2 linked regions of the Homo sapiens genome follow. The protein of the gene in region 1 interacts with the protein of each later gene in a pairwise test. Each region holds a gene or a part of one and is shown on either strand. Other genes may lie near its edges.

Region 1 (3,886 bases):
TGGGTAGAGTTTGCATCTGCAGATCAATTCTTTACATGTCATGTTTGACAGCTAAGATCCATTCCCAAATGACTCTGCGGTCCATTCGTTTGGTAGTTTCTTTCAGGGGGCTGAGGTACTCAGAATCTGAAGGGTTTCTATCCAAGTCTGTGGAGGGACTAGAACTTCCAGGATCACAGATTTGCCTCAGTCTCCTAGTTTCTTCCCTCAGTCCATTTATGGCAGAAGAAGGAACCTGCCTGGGTGCTGTAGATTTGTCCTGGGGTCTGAGATCTCCAGGAAGAAAACTCTCCCTTCCCCCAGCTCAGGCAGTGAGGTCTTCCTGTACCATCCCTGACCCGTGGTCCATCTCCCTGTACTGATGGGAGTTTTAGGGATCAATTCTCTGTTGCTCAATTGGATTGTATAATTCTCCTGGTCACACCTGAATGTTAGGCCTATCTGTGCCTCTCAGCCCGTCCCAAGTCTTTCTCTTCATAATTCTCAATTCCTTTCTTTTTCCCTTATCAAGGTAACATGCCACTTTATTCCCTCTTGGCAAATTTTACCTTGTTGCCCTATCTTATTTGGTCTATATTTGAGCAAGATATTTAGAAACATCCTTCAAAAAACCAGTTGCGCAACAATATTTGCTGAAATCTAAGTTTATTATGACCTTGCAGAAGGAAAATAACAGAAATGAAAGCACAAAATATGGCAAAAAACAGGATCTGTGAACTGTACCCCTACCATACCACACCTAGTTCAACATGTTCTCATTTTCTTCTTCAGGTTGGGGGAGAACAGCTGTGACTATAAATGCCTCGGAAATGCATAGACCCCAGGTTTGGCTATACGTCCTAGGGAACCTCGTCTACCCTCTTGAATCTCAATTTCCCCAGGAAAAACACGAAGCTGAATTAGATGACTTCTACCATCTTAGCTTTACAATCTCATCTTTATGACAGTCTGGAATATCAACAGAATCCGATGCCAGCCTGCAGGGATGAGGGTGTTAGAAGCTTAACCGTCTCGCACAAGTCATCTTACCACATGGTCAGGGTAGAGGGACTATAACTAAGTCATGTGGCTTGAGATCTGCCCAAGCAGATGCGTTGTCCCCTTCTGCCAATGACCAAGCACAGGGATCCTTCAACCTTTCCTCTAAGTCCAGAAGATAAGACAGCAACGCTCTGGTCCCAGCACCGCCACAAGCCTCTTTTCCTCTAGGGGCCTCAGTTTTCATAGCTATAAATTGGGGCTCACATCAGTTTTCTGTCCTGCTTCACAAGACTCTCATAAGGCTCCAAGGAGACTGCCCCAGGCGGGAGCTTGAGGACCCCCCTTAGGGTCGTGAGCAGTGAAAGCCCAAATGCTGTGTCTGGCACTGCTCATCATAGTCCTCTATCCAGCCCTCCCACCCTGCCTATTCTTTCTCCTGCCTCCAGGACACCACGTCTCCCCTTTCTAGTAAGTAGCGTTGATCTCATTAGCAGTTACAACAGTTCTCTGCATCTCAGAGCATGGACTTTAAAACCAGATAGGTGTGGCTTGAGTCTTGCCTCTATCACATGTAGTCCCTAGGGCTTCGGACCATTTCACTTCCCTGAGCTGATTTTGCAGCTGAGTCAAGGGGATAACAATGCTGACCTCACAACATAGTAGGGAGCGCTAAATGGGACAGTGCCTGTGAGACACCGAATTCAAACCCTAGCACATAATAGGCACATACTCATTTGAGGGCTTCTGCTCCCATCCTTCTCTCCGGAACTCATGGTCAGGAAAACTCAGCGGTCTATATGGCGCTCACTCAACCAGTAAAGTTGCCATAGGGTTCCATTGCTATCTTATACACCTCCCACATTCTGCCCCAATTCCATCGTCAAGCCTCAGCTCAGCCCACCAAGGGCACTAGCATCATGACCATTCACACAAGAGCAAGGCTTACCTTCTTGAAATAGTCAGCAAGGCTGTCGGGGTCCCAGCCCAGGACCTCTGAGCGAAAGGGCACATTCCTCAGTGCCATGGCTGCTCTCCCGGGAAGAAGCTCACAAGCTGAGCATGGGCGCTTCACCCATGGGCAGAGAAGCTCAAATCCAGAGCTCGGAGGCGTTCTTGGCTCTTCCAACTCCCAGCTACCCTGTGGAACACCCCTGTTGGAGCCGATGTCTTTTCTGGCGTAGCCAGATCCCAGAAAGCAACGGCTTCCTCTGCGAACAAATATGGTCTCTTCTCAGAAAACGACTCAGCTAGTTTCCTTTACCACTTCCTCTGCTGGGCTCTAAATAAGTAAACAAGGAAGCCCAGCTCTGGAGGCTTGAGATGCAGAGAGAGCCACAGGGTTGGTAATTCCCCACTGGCTCCAGTCACCCCAACCCAGTAGGAGAGGCAATGAAGGGGTCTTAAACTCCAATGTGAGTCTGAGTAATTTTCCTTTAAACTCTGGGCACCCATATGTCTACACTGCATTCTTGCTCAGCTGGGGCTTTGCAGACCAAAATCTATCCTGACGGTTGACCTGAAATACAGACAATTTCCCACATCAGTGAACTGCTGGAGCATGTTTTTTTAATGCTTTCCAACCACTTTCCCCTCCCACCATCAAAGACTGGGATTCTTTCAGCTGCCTCTTTACAGTTGTCATGAGAGGGTCCTCAAGGAGTGAGTGAGTCAGGCACCCAGGGCTGAACAAGGTGCTACACTGTGCAGACAGGGCTCAGTTTCTGATATGACTATTTCTGTGCTATGCAACCTTAGGCAAGGAGTTAAAAGCTGGGAATCTCAGTTTCCAAATCTGTATAATAGGAAAACAGTGATTCTTCATATGCACATAAAACTTAGATGCATTCAACTAGACAAACCTAAAAAGAAAAATTAAAAAGAAAAAAAACTTAACAATTGCTATTGGTAGTGTCATATATTCCATTCACTATTGTTTCCACAATATATTTTATTCACTATTGATTCTGCCATATATTCTAGCCAAAGAGCACATTCCCTGGAGATAGGAGGTGAGAATTTGCTGTTTTCTTAGTTTCAGACATTGTTCATTTCTCATAACTGAACAACTTATTGGCAGAGGGTGAGTCCAGTGTATAAAAGCAACTATATTTGTGCAATAAGGCAACCTCTAAACACAAGTTACTACTTCATCTAATGCCACACACACACACACACACACACACACACACACACGAGTCATCTGTTCCAAGGCTGTTGCCTTTACTAAGTGATGCTATGTTGGTCCTTGAGGTGGTGCCTTCCTGAGGGTTTTCAAGCATAGCTTTGGCCATGCACAGTTTTCTTCTTATACACACTCTGAGGAGCCCCGCCGTCACGGTAATGCACCTGCCTCACAAGCTGGTGGGCAGCTTAAATGAAATACACATTTTGCTCCAGGCCCAGCACTAGCTCATCAATGTGAGCTGGTGTTAGCCTCACCTTAGAAGGTGCTGAGGGCATCAGTGAAGGTAGCCCAGGCCATTTGCTCCTTGCAGGGCCTCACACCTAAGAACTCTTTTCTTTTCTCTCTTTCTTTCTTTCTTTCTTTTTTTTTTTTTTTTTTTATTGAGACGGAGTTTCGCTCTTGTTGCCCGGGCTGGAGTGCAATGGTGCCATCTCGGCTCACTGCAACCTCCGCTGCCTCCCAGGTTCAAGCGATTCTCTTTCCTCAGCCTCCCGAGTAGCTGGGATTACAGGCATGCACCACCACGCCCAGCTAATTTTGTATTTTTAGTAAAGACGGGGTTTATCCCTGTTGGCCAGGCTGGCCTGGAACTCCCAACCTCAGGTGATCTGCCCGCCTAGGCCTTCCAAAGTGTTGGGATTACAGGCGTGAGCCATTGTGCCTGGGCCGCACCTAAGAGCTCTTTGTAGCTGATCATTCTGTATAAAGCACAGCTCTGCT
Region 2 (3,680 bases), on another chromosome or scaffold:
TTAATGATGTAAAAAAGCAAATTCACAGGAAAGGGTAAAAGTTTGCTCTTACTCTGTTTTGTGTTGCTATAACAAAGTACCACAGAGTGAGTAATTTAAAACAAAAAGAAATTTATTTCTTATAGTTCTGCAGGCTGGAAAGCCCAAGATCTAGGGGCCACATCTGATGAGGGCCTTCTCTCTGCATCATAACACAATGGAAGGCGTCACATGGCCAGAGAGTGCACGAGAGACAGAGCGAGGGACGGTGGAACTCTCACTTTTACGACAAAACCACTTCTGCAATAACCAACACACCCCTGTGATAACAGCATTAATCCGTTCATGAAGGCAGACTCCTCATGACCTAATCAACTCTTTTCTTTTCTTTTCTTTTCTTTTTTGAGACACAGTCTCGCTCTGTTGGCCAGGCTGGAGGGCAGTGGCGCAATCTCAGCTCACTGCAACCTCCACCTCCCAGGCTCAAGCAATTCTCCTGCCTCAGCCTCCGGAGTAGCTGGGATTACAGGCATGTGCCACCACACCCGACTAATTTTTGTATTTGTAGTAGAGACAGGGTTTCACCATGTTGGCCAGGCTGGTCTCGGACTCCTGACCTCAGGTAATCCACACGCCTTGGCCTCCCAAAGTGTTGGGCTTACAGGCGTGAGCCACCACGCCCAGCCCTAATCAATTCTTAAACATCCAACTTCTCAACACAGGTCATTGGGGGATTAAATTTCCAACACATGAACCTTGGAACACATTCAAACCATAGCAGGCTCCTTTTCAAATAAATTTATTGCAGCAAAAAAGTGAACCAATTTAAAGAAAAGTGTGAGGCACAGGGCCAGGCAAAAGTGGTAACAATGGGCCGGGTGTGGTGGCTCACGCCTGTAATCCCAACAATTTGGGAGGCTGAGGTGGGCAGATCACTTGAGCTCAGGAATTTGAGACCAGCCTGGGCAACATGGGAAAACCCCGTCTCTACAAAAAATATACAAAAATTAGCCAGCATCGTGGCAAGCGCCTGTAGTCCTAGCTACTCGGGAAACTGAGGCACGAGAATCGCTTGAACCCAGGAGGTGGAGGTTGCAGTGAGCCGAGATTGTGCCACTGCACTCCAGCCTGGGCGACAGAGCGAGACACTGTCTCAAAACAAAAAAGGTGATAATGATGTCTGAGAAACGCTGATCTTCCATTCGGCCCTCTGTGAAATGAGGCCTGGATGGAAAGACGGTTCCAGGTAATTTCTGCTTTTGTTCCTGTAGCACAGAAGTCAGAGAACAGAGAAGCCAGGTTCCCTTCTTGGGATAGGGGATGGGAGAATGCTTGACACAAAAATAAAGCCCTCGAGGTTATCCGCTTTCAACCAGCTGCCTTGGAGCTGGCAGCTGCTGCTCATTCATTCAGTCAATCAACAAACATTGCCTTGGACACTGTGGGGGACACAGGGCTGACCCAGCCATGGGCCCTGCCCTCTAGGGTTTTCTGATCTAGGAGAACACATTTTTGTCTTTATGCATGAGAAAGTGGTTTTCCAGACCCAGAGAGAGAGATGATACAGAGCAGAGCTAAAGCCCCCCTGCCCCACACACATCACATTCACACACACAGTCGTAATCACATATGCACACAGTCCCTCACACACACTCATATGCACACACCTCACAGTCATACACACTGCAGCCATCATTCAATCCCCCTCCCCCACCCCATGTAGTAACATTGAAAACTACGCAGGAGCACTGGGACGGTTGCTGTGGGAACCGGGATTCTGAAATCCTAACTTGTGGGCATCTGAATTCTTGCGCTGAACATTCTAATACATCAGCCACAGAGTTTATGCTCTGAATTTGGAGTCATTTCTCCTCCAGGGGCTCAGGCTGGGCAGCCAGCCAGGGAGTTAGCGAGGACGGCAATTAGAGGGCTGAAGACTTTCTGCCTGATGATGAAGAGGCCCACACGGTTTCCTGGAGAGGGCTGTCTGCCAGGGTGTGCACGCGCACATGCACAAGCTCAGGCTCAGGGGGTATGTCCGTGGAATCTGCTCAGGTGAAGCTCCAGGAATGTGTAGTGGTCATGTCCGAGTCTTCAGGCTCTGTATCGGTCAGGCCGGACTAGGCAAGGCTGTAGCAACAAGGACACCCCCAAATCTTCATGGTTTAACATGATAAGGGCTTACTCCTTACTCACACAAAATCCAAGCTGGGTCAACATCCCCTTCCCTCTTGCAGTTCCTCCGCAACCCAGGGCCTCTAATATCCTTCAACAGGGAAGACGTAAATGGAAATGGCTCACTGCCTCTTCCCTGCTTTGGCTCAAAAGCAGGCAGACGTCTTCTGCCTAGGCTTCAACCAGCCCAACCTAAGTGCAAGAGAAACCAGGAAATGCAGAGGAGTTCATAGGCAACCACAACAGTCCCTGCCCCAGAGCCTCCCTTTGTGCTTTGCAAGCCCAAACATCCCAGCCCAGAGGGGAGGCAAGTCCTTGGAGACAGTTTAAATCCGGGCTCTGCAGCTTGCTCACTGGGTGGCCTCAGGCCCACGCATCAGTTGGGTTCCCACCAGGAAACCTAGAATAGGAATTTAAAGGGGACTTATTTACAGAAGAACTATTTACAAAGGGTAATGCAGTAAGTAGAATCTAAGAGCAACTTCTGGCCAAAGGAGACACAACCAGGGAGTGGTCAGTGAGTCCGAGTAGGAGACAGTCAAGGAGAGGTCACCTTGAATAAGCAATGTCCTTCACATGAGGGACACAGCCTACCCGAGGGACCTCACAGGGGGGGCCAGAGGAATAAGTGTCACATCTTCGCTCTCCTCACTTCTGCCTAGCTCTGCTAAGGCTCCCCATTGGCTGAATCTGACAGAAGCCATAAGGCCCAGGAAGACAGGGGTTAATCCAAACAGATCAGCCTCCCAGGGCAGAATGGATAGTAGCTCTGGTGGAATAAATGGACCCTATCTGGCAGGGACAACTGATTTTTGCTTTTGGAGCCTCCTTTTCCTAATCTGTAAAATAAGAATGCTAACACCTGCCTCATTGCATTGTTGAAAGTAAATGGAATAGGCTGGATGTAGTGGCTCATGCCTGTAATCCCGGCACTTTGGGAGGCTGAGGCAGGCAGATCACCTGAGGTCAGGAGTTCGAGACCAGCCTGACCAACATGGAGAAACCCCGTCTCTACTAAAAATACAAAATTAGCCAGGCGTGGTGGCGCATGCCTGTAATCCCAGCTACTCAGGAGGCTGAGACAGGAGAATCGCTTGAATCTGGGAGGTGGAGGTTGCGGTGAGCCGAGATCAAGCCATTGCACTCCAGCCTGGGCAACAAGAGCGAAACTCTGTCTCAAAAAAAAAAAAAGAAAGAAAGAAAGAAAGTAAATGGAACAATATATGCAAATATGCAAATACCTGTCCTTCATGAATGCTAGTTTCTTAGTGTCTGAAGGCACTTTGCAATCCAGTGGTTCCCAGTCCAGGATGTGTCAATTATTCTAAAGTCTGATATGAAATTCTCAAACAAATTCTATAAACAAAATTTTCTTTTTCTAAATCACTCCCACTTTCGAGCTTTTTCTATATGTCAAGTATTTCATAGGCTGTCTCATTTCAGTCTCACAATATTTTCCTAAGAATCATAGCTGAAAAATTGGGACTGGCACAGAAAGATTAAGTCACCCATTCATGGTCACGAAG

What was found. The genes of interacting proteins can lie anywhere in the genome.
Region 2: the proteins of LCP2 (region 1) and CD6 interact in binary tests that used the Homo sapiens proteins (3 or more experiments, as listed by UniProt).

Annotation. Positions count from the first base shown.
Region 1 is NC_000005.10:170,295,607-170,299,492, forward strand, and holds the start of LCP2 (lymphocyte cytosolic protein 2), read right to left. Parts: upstream 2,172-3,886; 5' UTR 2,006-2,171; coding exon 1,928-2,005; intron 1-1,927. UniProt on the Homo sapiens protein: Adapter protein primarily involved in signaling pathways within T-cells, as well as other immune cells such as platelets, mast cells, and natural killer (NK) cells.
Region 2 is NC_000011.10:61,002,600-61,006,279, forward strand, and holds part of CD6 (T-cell differentiation antigen CD6 isoform 1 precursor), read left to right. Parts: intron 1-762; exon of another isoform or gene 763-2,346; intron 2,347-3,680.